Regions from separate parts of the Homo sapiens genome. Here region 2 is linked to region 1. The links come from fine-mapping of genetic effects on gene expression. A gene starts in region 1. The other region holds a variant in brackets. All regions are shown on one strand. Distances are between the middles of the regions. Region 1 holds the start of ZNF589 (zinc finger protein 589). Region 2 holds the start of SPINK8 (serine peptidase inhibitor Kazal type 8 (putative)).

The links. PIP is the estimated chance that this variant, and not a neighbour inherited with it, causes the effect.
Region 2: its variant is fine-mapped to the expression of ZNF589 in whole blood (TOPMed, PIP above 0.99).

Annotation. Positions count from the first base shown.
Region 1 is chr3:48,238,163-48,243,539 of GRCh38, reverse strand. It overlaps ZNF589 (zinc finger protein 589), which reads right to left and starts at 2,436. Exons shown (of 4, transcript NM_016089.3): 1 at 2,326-2,436. The coding sequence starts at 2,368. RefSeq lists enhancers at 2,267-2,561, 1,752-2,669, 2,987-3,281.
Region 2 is chr3:48,331,483-48,336,859 of GRCh38, reverse strand. SPINK8 (serine peptidase inhibitor Kazal type 8 (putative)) reads left to right here and starts at 3,199. Exons shown (of 8, transcript NM_001080525.3): 1 at 3,199-3,325; 2 at 4,389-4,494. RefSeq lists a silencer at 2,654-2,854. The variant G/A (reference allele first, on the strand shown) is at 3,006.

The DNA of each region.
Region 1 (5,377 bases):
GCGCCCGGTCCATTGTCTTTACTTTCTTTAGCTTTGCTATCCAATTGAACTGGTCTTGGCACAGTAGGCAGAGACAAAGCCCACCACCCTCAAAGAGTGGATGGAAGGAGGCACAAGGGCTCCCACACAGGACAAACAGCTACATGCTGAACAATGGCTTGGCAAACTACACACAAGCCAAATCCAGCCTGCCACCTGTTGTTATACCACCCAAAGGCTAAGAATAGTCTTTACTTCAGAAAAAAAAAATTTTAACACAAAGATGAAGTCTCACTATGTTGCCCAGGCTGGTCTCAAACTTCTGGGCTCAAGTGATCCTAGCCTCAGCCTTCCAAAGTGCTGGGATTACAGGCGTGAGCCACCATGCTGGGCCAGTTTTTACATTTTTAATTGGCTGAAAAAAAAATCAGAAACAGAATATTTCATAATAATGAAAATTATATATGAAATTCAAATTTCCTTTTTTTTTTTTAGAGTCTCATTCTGTTACCCAAGCTGGAGTGCAGTCATGCGATCTCGGCTCACTGAAACCTCTGCCTCCAAGGTTCAAGCAATTCTTGCGCCTCAGCCTCAGAGTAGCTGGGATTACAGGTGTACGGCACCACACCCAGCTTATTTTATTTTATTTTATTTTTAAAGTAGAGATGGGGTGTTGCCATGTTGACCAGGCTGGTCTTGAACTCCTGGGCTCAAGAGATCCTCCTGCCTTGGCCTCCCAAAGTGCTGGGATTACAGGCGTGAGCCACTGCACTCAGCCAAAATTCAAATTTCAATGTCTATAAAGAAAGTTTTATTGGAACACGGCAATGCTCATTCGTTTACCTATGGTCTTTGGCTGCTTTCACACAACAGCAGACCACTAGTCGTAACAAAGACCGTGTGGCCTACAAAGCCTGAAACATTTACCACCTGGCCCTTAAAAGAAAACGTTTGCAAGACCAGGTGCAGTGGCTCACGCCTATAATCCTAGCACTTTGGGAGACCGAGGCGGGAGGATCCCTTGAGCCCAGGAGTTGGAGACCAGCCTGGGCAACATAGGGAGACCCTGTTTCTAAAAAAACCAAACAGAAAAAAATTTGCCCAGCCCTGTTCTAGACTGTTCCTGTTGTTACATCCAAAGTCATTTGGGGCCGGGTGTGGTAGCTCCCACCTGTAATCCCAACACTTTGGGAGGCCGAGGCAGGTGGATCATCTGGGGTCAGGAGTTCAAGACCGGCCTGGCCAACATGATGAAACCCCGCCTCTACTAAAAATACAAAAAAATAGCCGGGCGTGGTGGCGTGTCCCTGTAATTCCAGCCGCTTGGTAGGCTGAGGCAGGAGAATCGCTGGAACCTGGGAGAAAGAGGTTGCAGTGAGCAGAGATCGCCCACTGCACTCCAGCCTGGGCTACAGAGCAAGACTCTGTCTCCAAAAAAAAAGTCTTTTGGGCCGGGTGGGGTGGCTAACACCTGTAATCCCAACATTGTGGGAGGCCAAGGTGGGTGGATTGCTTGAGGCCAGGAGTTCGAGACCAGCCTGGCAAATATGGCGAAATCCCCTCTCTACTAAAAATACAACAGCCGGGGTGGTGAGGCGCCGCCTGTAATCCCAGCTACTCCGGAAGCTGAGGCACGAGAATCACTTGAGCCTGGGAAAGCGGAGGCTGCAGTGAGCCTAGATCCCGCCACTGCACTCCGGACCGACTCAAAAAATATAAAAATATAATATACTCCGGGCGCGGTGGCTCACGCCTGTAATCCCAGCACTTTGGGAGGCCGAGGTGGGCGGATCACGAGGTCTGGAGTTCAAAACCAGCCTGGCCAACATGGTGAAATCCCCGTCTCTACTAAAAATACAAAAATTAGCCAGGCGTGGTGGAGGGCGCCTGTAATCCCAGCTGCTCGGCAGGCTGAGGCAGAGAACTGCTTGAACCCGGGAGACGGAGATTGCAGTGAACGGAGATCGCGCCACTGCACTCCAGCCTGGGCGACAGAGCGAGACTCCGTCTCAAAATAAATATGATATAATATAATAATACAAAATGCTGTTCTTCAGTTGCACTCCACACATCTCAAATGCTCAGCAGCCATTTATGGCCAATGACTGCCGGAGTGCACAAGTGCAGGATGCCCGGTGAAGAGTCGTGGAGTGAGCACCGTGGAGACTGTACGGGACACCTAGGGAGGAACCTGGCCCCCCAGGGGAGTAAGAGCCGCTGTAGGGGTAGTCAGCGCCTCACACAGCTCGCACCCCACGCGCATCCCTGGTGGATACGGCCGACGCCTGCGCGGCGCCTGCGGCTGGAGCACCGAATGGGGGAGGCGATCTCGCGGCCCCGACTCACCTTCCGCAGTCCAGCCCAGTAGCTGCTCCCGCGGGGCCCACATCTGCGCGCGCACGCACGCACGAAGCAAACGAGGTAGCAGCACCGTGTGTGAAACGGATTAGAATGCGCACCGCGGGCCACTGGCGGCGCCAGAAGAAAGAAGCAGGACTGGGTGAAGTGCGTCACCGCGCGGCGCGCAGCCTGCCGGGAAGCGTAGTTCTCGGGGCGAAATGCGGCTTGTGCAGGGCGAGAGAAAATGCTGAGGCGCACTTTGACCTTCTAGGTCCCCCTCGGCCGCAATATTTGGGGTTGTGCTTACCACAGGTACCCATAAGCAAAATATAGTGTTGTTTTCCATGGTTGTAAACATTATATAAATACACTTACAATGCCTGCTACTAGCTCTTTTGCGCAGTTCTATAATGACACGTGTTGACCTGTTCATTGTGTGTTCACTGCTGTGTGGTATCTAATGTAGAAATACACCAGGACTCCAATTGGACAGACTCATGCGCATCCATGGAGAGCTTCTCAAGGACAGTGGTTCGCAAACTTGTTGTTGTTAAAATCCTTTTACACTCTTAAAAATTACTGAGGACCCCAAAGAGCTTTTGAAACCGCCTTTGCAAAATTATACCTAAGGAAATTATGATGTTATAGGAGTTATTAAGAAATTATTTTAAGCAGATAGAGAAGGAAAGGGGTCCTTGGGAAGTTTTTGTTTCTTTTAAAGCAGCTCCAGAAAGGTTTCTTGTCTAGCAGGAAAGCCTGGGCTCCTAGAGCAGGATGGCAAGCTTTGATATGGAAATACAGGCCATTAGAAACTGGACGCACCCAAACATGGCGATTCCCGCCGTCCTTTTCTTTGCCCTGACATGTGCCTGGCAACATGGCCACCCCCCACATATTCCCACGTGTGTAGAACTTCATGGAGCCCTACATTTGCATATTAAAAAGCTAGGGTGGGAGGGCCAGGTTTTTGGCTGCCACATAAATGACACATCTGATCAAACTAATCCCCTGAGCCCTATGGAAACCAGACACCGCCTCCTCCAGCATCCTCAGATAAGCAGCCACTTTTCCGCACACGGCGCTTTCTCTTTGTTGGAATCCCCGCTCCCTCTGTCTCTGTATGGGGGAGCTGTTTTCGTCTTCCTTCCTTCTTTCTTGCCTATTAAACTTTTCGCTCCTTAAAACCACTCCACGTGTGTCTGTGTTATTAAGCCTATCAGAGACCAAGGACCCTGGTGTTCCTCCAGTCATCAGAGCCTTATCAATGACAGTAAAAGATATCAGATCTAACCCACCTCATCTTCCTTTCAACCTCTAAACTGTCTTTGTCCACTTCTGGGCATAGGCCAAAGTAGCCTTGGGAAGGAATTCAGTTTATAGCTTAAATAATAGCCCTTCCCAAGGGCTAAACTGTTCTTGTAAAATGAATGAAAGGCCACCAGCCACCAAATTAGGATGAGAAGGGCTGGAATTCTAAATATTACCAGCCATTATTCCAGAGGCCCTAAGACGCACAACTTCCCCAATTACTCTTTTGAAGCACAACTTCCCCAATTACTCTTTTTTTTTTTTTAGGGAAAAGAACACGGAGTCTCACTCTGTCTACCATGCTGGAGTGCAGTGGTGCCATCTCGGCTCACTGCAACCTCCCTCTCCTGGGTTCAAGCGATTCTCCTGCCTCAACCTCCTGAGTAGCCGGGATTACAAGCACGCACCACCATACCCCGCTAATATTTTTGGATTCTTTTTTTTTTTGGTTGGTTTTTTTTTTTTTTTTTTTTTTTTTTTTGAGACGGAGTCTCGCTCTGTCGCCCAGGCCGGACTGCGGACTGCAGTGGCGCAATCTCGGCTCACTGCAAGCTCCGCTTCCCGGGTTCACGCCATTCTCCTGCCTCAGCCTCCCCAGTAGCTGGGACTACAGGCGCCCGCCACCGCGCCCGGCTAATTTTTTGTATTTTTAGTAGAGACGGGGTTTCACCTTGTTAGCCAGGATGGTCTCGATCTCCTGACCTCATGATCCACCCGCCTCGGCCTCCCAAAGTGCTGGGATTACAGGCGTGAGCCACCGCGCCCGGCCAAGGTTGGTTTTTTTTTTTTTTTTTTTTTGAGCCCAGGCTGGAGTGCAATGGTGCGATCTCGGCTCACTGCAACCTCCTCCTCCCGAGTTCAAGCAATTATCCTGCCTCGGCCTCCGGAGTAACTGGAATTACAGGCATGCGCCACCACGCCCGGCTAATTTTGTATTTTTAGTAAGGACGGGGTTTCTCCATGTTGGTCAGGCTGGTCTCAAACTCCTGACCTAGGTGAGCCGCCCACCTTGGCCTCCCAAAGTGGTAGGATTCCAGGCGTGAGCCACCACGCCCAGCCCTCAATTACTCTTAAAGATAACATCACTATTGTGAACCTAAGATTGGCCTTTTGAGATGTCTTTTCAGATTTTTGCATTTCTGACAACTGAACGGCCCCAGCTGGACCTGCCAACCAGTTTTGTGGCCACCACCTAGGAACTGACTCAGCCTAAGAGAACAGCTTCAACTCCTTATGATTTCATCCCGAGCCAACCAATCAGCACCCTGATTCACTGGCCCCCTTCCCACCAAATTATCCTTAAAAATTTTGATCTCTGAGTTTTTGAGGAAACTGATTTGAGTAATAATAAAACTCTGGTCTTCCGCACAGCCGGCTCTGCATGAATTACTCTTTTTTTTTTTTTTTTTTTTGAGACGGAGTCTTGCTCTGTCGCCCAGGCTGGAGTGCAGTGGCACCATCTCAGCTCACTGCAAGCTCCGCTTCCCGGGTTCATGCCATTCTCCTGCCTCAGCCTCCCCATTAGCTGGGACTACAGGCGTCCGCCAACACGCCCGGCTAATTTTTTGTATTTTTAGTAGAGACGGGGTCTCACTGTGTTAGCCAGGATGGTCTCGATCTCATGACCTCGTGATCGGCCTGCCTCGGCCTCCCAAAGTGCTGGGATTACAGGCGTGAGCCACCGCGCCCAGCCGAATTACTCTTTTTCTATTGCAATTTTGCTGTCTTTGATAAACTGGCTCTGTCTAGG
Region 2 (5,377 bases), 93 kb before region 1:
TAATCCAGCTACTCAGGAGGCTAAGGCAGGAGAATCACTTGAATCCGGGAGGTGGAGGTTGCAGTGAGCTGAGATTGCACCACTGCACTCCAGCCTGGGGGACAGAGTGAGACTCCATCTCAAAAAAAAAAAAAAAAAGAAAAGAAATAAATCTACCTCTACATCAAATAACTATCAAATTTTATAGTATACCTATGTTTTGATTGACATGTACTACTAACTGTGATAATAACTCAGTTCAAGAGAAACAGATTAAAACTTTATATCCTATGATCCCAGGAACTTTGAAAAATCCATTTATTTGCATATTTCTGATGATGAAAAGTAGAAAAGCATGATCAGTAACTCACCATCAAGCATAACATTGAAATAAAAGTTACATGGAGAAAGCAGAATGAAACGTTCATTCAAGGAGAAAAAGAAATGACATACAATTTCTAACTGAGTTCATCCATGTGGCTTTCAAATATACAATGTAAAATCAAATTGCCATAGAATGTAAATTCCATGGGTTATGTCTAAGATAATGATTTTTATTTTAAAATAGTAATATTTAAACTAGGCCAGTAATTGAGTTATTTGTAACTATTTAAACTTTTTTTTTAAGACAGTTTTGCAGGCAACCCCCTTTGGGTCCCCTCCTTTGTATGGGAGCTCTGTTTTCACTCTATTAAATCTTGCAACTGCACACTCTTCTGTTCCATGTTTGTTCCGGCTCGAGCTGAGCTTTCACTCACTCTCCACCACTGCTGAAAGCCAACGTCGCTGACCCACCATTGGCTTCCACACCTCCGGATTGGGCAGGGTGGCTGCTATGCTTCTGATCCAGCGAGGTGCCCATTGCCACTCCCAATCAGGCTAGAGGCTCGCCATTGTCCCTGCATGGCTAAGTGCCTGGGTTCATCCTAATCGAGCTAAACACTAGTCGCTGGGTTCCAGGGTTCTCTTCCGTGACCGACGGCTTCTAATAGAGCTATAACACTCACTGCATGTCCCAAGTTTCCATTCCTTGGAATCCGTGAGGCCAAGAACCCCAGGTCAGAGAACAAAAGGCTTGCCGCCATCTTGGGAGCGGCCTGCCACCATCTCAGGAGCTCTAAGAACAAAGACCTGCCTGGTAACAGCTGTTGGCCCGTACAGGTATTCTCCAAAGTGGTGAGTAATATTGAACCACTTTAGCTTGCTATCCTGTCCTATCCTTCCTTAGAATCAGAGGAAATACCGGGCACCTGTCAGCCAGTTAAAAATGATTAGCATGGCCACTGGACTTAAGACTCAGCTGTGAGGCTTTCTGGGAAAAGGCTTTCTAACAACCCCCAACCCTTTGGGGTTAGGAGCGTTGGTCTGCCTGGAACCAGCTTCCGCTTTCACAATTTCCTGGGGGGAAGCCGAGGGCCGACTAGAGGCAGAAAGCTGTCGTCCTGAACTCCCGGCATTGGCTGGTTGAGATCATGGTGCAGCCAGAAGTCTCTACTCAACAGTTGCCCACGTGTGCACCCCTACCTTTCCTTCTGACCCATACCTCCTGGGTCCCGACCATGACTTTCTTGAAAGTGTAGCCCCAAAAATTCTCCTTACCTCTGAATCTACTTCCTCCAATCCCTGCCTCCTAGGTACTAATGCTTCAGACTTTCATTTCCTCTCCCAAGTATTAGAGCAAGTTGTATCTCCAAAGAGATCTAAGGAAGCTCTATGCTGTGGCCTTAGATATCTAGGCTATGAACCCAGGGAGTCTTGCCCCTGGTGTCCCTCCCAATTTAGGTATATAGCTGTCAACATGGGCTGTTATGTGGGACCCATTCCCCACCACCCTTGCCAGGGCCCCAAGTTTGTAAATAGCTAGGAAGATCGCTCTCCCATTGTGTAAGATGCTCTCCTCCCCTAATTTCTACCCAGTTTACTACCCCCTGCAATACAATCTCCAAGCCTTGGCTCCTTGGCCAGGCCCTTAGAACTGATAACCCAGTATTTTAACAACTGGAACTGAGTCTACAACAACATAATAGATCAGGATGAAAACGAATTTGAGTAAATTAAAGGGAGGCACATGTTCCTATAGTGGCAAACTGGGGCAACAAGTGAACGTCCTTCCACTGCGTTTCCAAAATCCATCTAAAAAAAGACAGACAGAGAGAGGAAGAGGCAGAAAGTCAAAGAGAGAAAGAAAGAAAAAAGGGAAAGAGAGAGGTAGTAAAGAAAAAACAGTGTACCCTATTCCTTTAAAAGCCAAGGTAAATTTAGAACCTATAATTGATAATTAAAGGTCTTCTCCACGACCCTATAATACTCCAATACTACCTTGTTGTCAGTGTAAACAAGGGCGTAGCCCGAAAACACTGAGACCACTGACAACCCATAGCCTTCCTATCAAAAATCCTGAACCCAGTAACCCGTGGATGGCCCAAATGCATTCAATCTGTAGTGGCAACTGCTTTGCTAACAGAATAAAGTAGAAAAATAACCTTTAGAGGAAACCTCATTGTGAGCACACCTCACCAGTTCAGAACAATCCTAAGACCAAAAAAAAAAAAAAAAAAAGGTAGCTTACTAGCTCAAAATTCTTAAAGTATGGGGCTATTCTGTTAGAAAAAGGTGATTTAACACCAACCACTGATAATTCCCTTAACCCAGCAGATTTCCTAACAGGGGATTTAAATCTTAATTGCCATGCAAAGGTCCAACCAGACCTAGGAGGAACTTCCTTTAGGATAGGACGATAGATGGTTCCTCCCAGGCGATTGAGGAAAAAACCACAATGGGTATTCAGTAATTGATAAGGAAACTCTTGTGGAAGCAGAGTTAGGAGAATTGCCTCATAATTGGTCTGCACAAACTGCGAGCTGTTTGCACTCAGCCAAGCCTTAAAGTACTTACAAAAAGAGCAAGCCCATCTTTTTCTCCTCGCTCTCCTTCTCGTAGGAAAAAGGCACATAGGATAAACAGGAGCCATCTCTCATATTTCGTACCCAAAAGGACTTAATCCAGGGCAACAAAATCTTAAGTTC[G/A]ATAATTAAGGCATATTCCTACAAAGGAAAAGGACAAAGGCCCTAGTGGGCAAAAACTCTATCTCAATCCTGACTCAAAAGGTTACCTACACCCTCTCTGAAACGAATTTGCATAAGAACTGTTGTTTATGAAAATGCATCTTGATGGGGCAACTGGGTTGTTATGAAATACTCAGAAACCCAGCCCAGCTCTAGAACTCACTCCTGAGTGCAAAGGCAATGTCAGGCACGCTGGTAAAGGACCACTAGAATCCAGCAGCCCAGACCCCTTTCTTTGTGGTCAAGAAGGGCAGGAAAACAGGTGCAGGACTGCTACATCGGTGAGTGTAACTAATCTGATAAGCAGAGGTCCGTGGGTGGTTACGCACCCTGAAAAGGAATAAGCATTAGGACCACAGAGGACGCTCTAGGACTAATGCTCATCAGAAAATGACTAGGGGTGCTGGCATCCCTATGTTCTTTTTAAACGTTCCCCCCTCCCAGGCAAAAACGCCCCTAAGATGTATTCTAGAGAATTAGGACCAATTTGACCCTCAGATGCTAAGAAAGAAACGACTTATATTCTTCTGCAGTACCCCTGGCCACAATATCCTCTTCAAGAGGGAGAAACATGCCCTCCAAGGGAAGTATAAATTATAACACCATCTTACAGCTAGACTTCTTTTGTAGAAAATAGGGCAAATGGAGCGAAGTGCCATATGTGCAAACTTTCTTTTCATTAAGAGACAACTCACAATTATGTTAAAAGTGTGATTTATGCCCTACAGGAAGCCCTCAGAATCTACCCCCCTGCCCCGGCGTTCCCCCGGCTCCTTCCCCAACTAATAATGACCCCCCTTCAACACAAACGGTGCCAAAGGAGATAGAGAAAGGGGTAAACAATGAACCAAAGAGTGCCAATATTCCCAGATTATGCCCCCTTGAAGTGGTGGGAGGAGGAGAATTCAGCCCAGAGTGTGTGTACCTTTTTCCCTCTCAGACTTGAAGCAAATTAAAATAGACCTAGGTAAATTCTCAAATAACCCTGATGGCTATATTGATGTTTTACAAGGGTTAGGACAATCCTTTGATCTGACATGGAGAGACATAATGTTACTGCTAGATCAGATACTAACCCCAAATGAGAGAAGTGCCGCTATAACTGCAGCCCAAGAGTTTGGCAATCTCTGGTATCTCAGTCAGGTCAATGATAGGATGACAACAGAGGAAAGAGAACGATTCCCCACAGGCCAGCAGGCAGTTCCCAGTGTAGACCCTCAATGGGACGCAGAATCAGAATGTGGAGATTGGTGCCGCAGACATTTGCTAACTTGCATGCTAGAAGGACTAAGAAAAACTAGGAAGAAGCCTATGAATTATTCAATGATGCCCACTATAACACAGGGAAAGGAAGAAAATCCTACTGCCTTTCTGGAGAGACTAAGGGAGGCATTGAGGAAGCATACCTCTCTGTCATCTGGATCTATTGAAGGCCAACTAATCTTAAAGGGTAAGTTTATCACTCAGCTGCAGACATTAGAAAAAAACTTCAAAATCCGCCTTAGGCCTGGAACAAAACTTAAACTAAGAACTTGGCCTCAGTTTTTATAATAGAGATCAGAAGGAGCAGGCAGAACTGGACAAACGGGATAAAAAGAAGGCCACCGCTTTAGTCATGGCCTTCAGGCAAGTGGACTTTGGAGGCTCTGGAAAAGTGAAAGGCTGGGCAAATCGAATGCCTAATAGGGATTTGATTCCAGTGCGGTCTACAAGGACACTTTAAAAAAGATTGTCCGAATAGAAATAAGCCACCCCCTCATCCATGCCCCTTATTTCAAGGGTATCACTGGAAGGCCCACTGCCCCAGGGGATGAAGGTCCTCTGAGTCAGAAGCCACTAACCAGATGATCCAGCAGCAGGACTGAGGGTGCCTGGGGCAAGCGCCAGCCCCTGGCATCACCCTCCCCAGGTATGCTTGACCACTGAGGGCCAGGAGGTTAACTGTCTGCTGGACACTAGCGCGGCCTTCTCAGTCTTACTCTCCTGTCCCAGACAACTGTCCTCCAGATCTGTCACTATCCGAGGGGTCCTAGGACAGGCAGTCACTAGATACTTCTCCCAGACACTAAGTTGTGACTAGGGAACTTTACCATTTTCACATACCTTTCTAATTATGCCTGAAAGCCCCATTCCCTTGTTAGGGAGAGACATTCTAGCAAAAACAGGGGCCATTATACACTAGAATTAGGAGAAGAAAAAAAGGTAAATATCTATACAGACTCTAAGTATGCTTACCTAGTCCTCCATGCCCACGCAGCAATATGGAGAGAAAGAGAATTCCTAACTTCTGAGGGAACACCTATCAAATATCAGGAAGCCATTAGAAGATTATC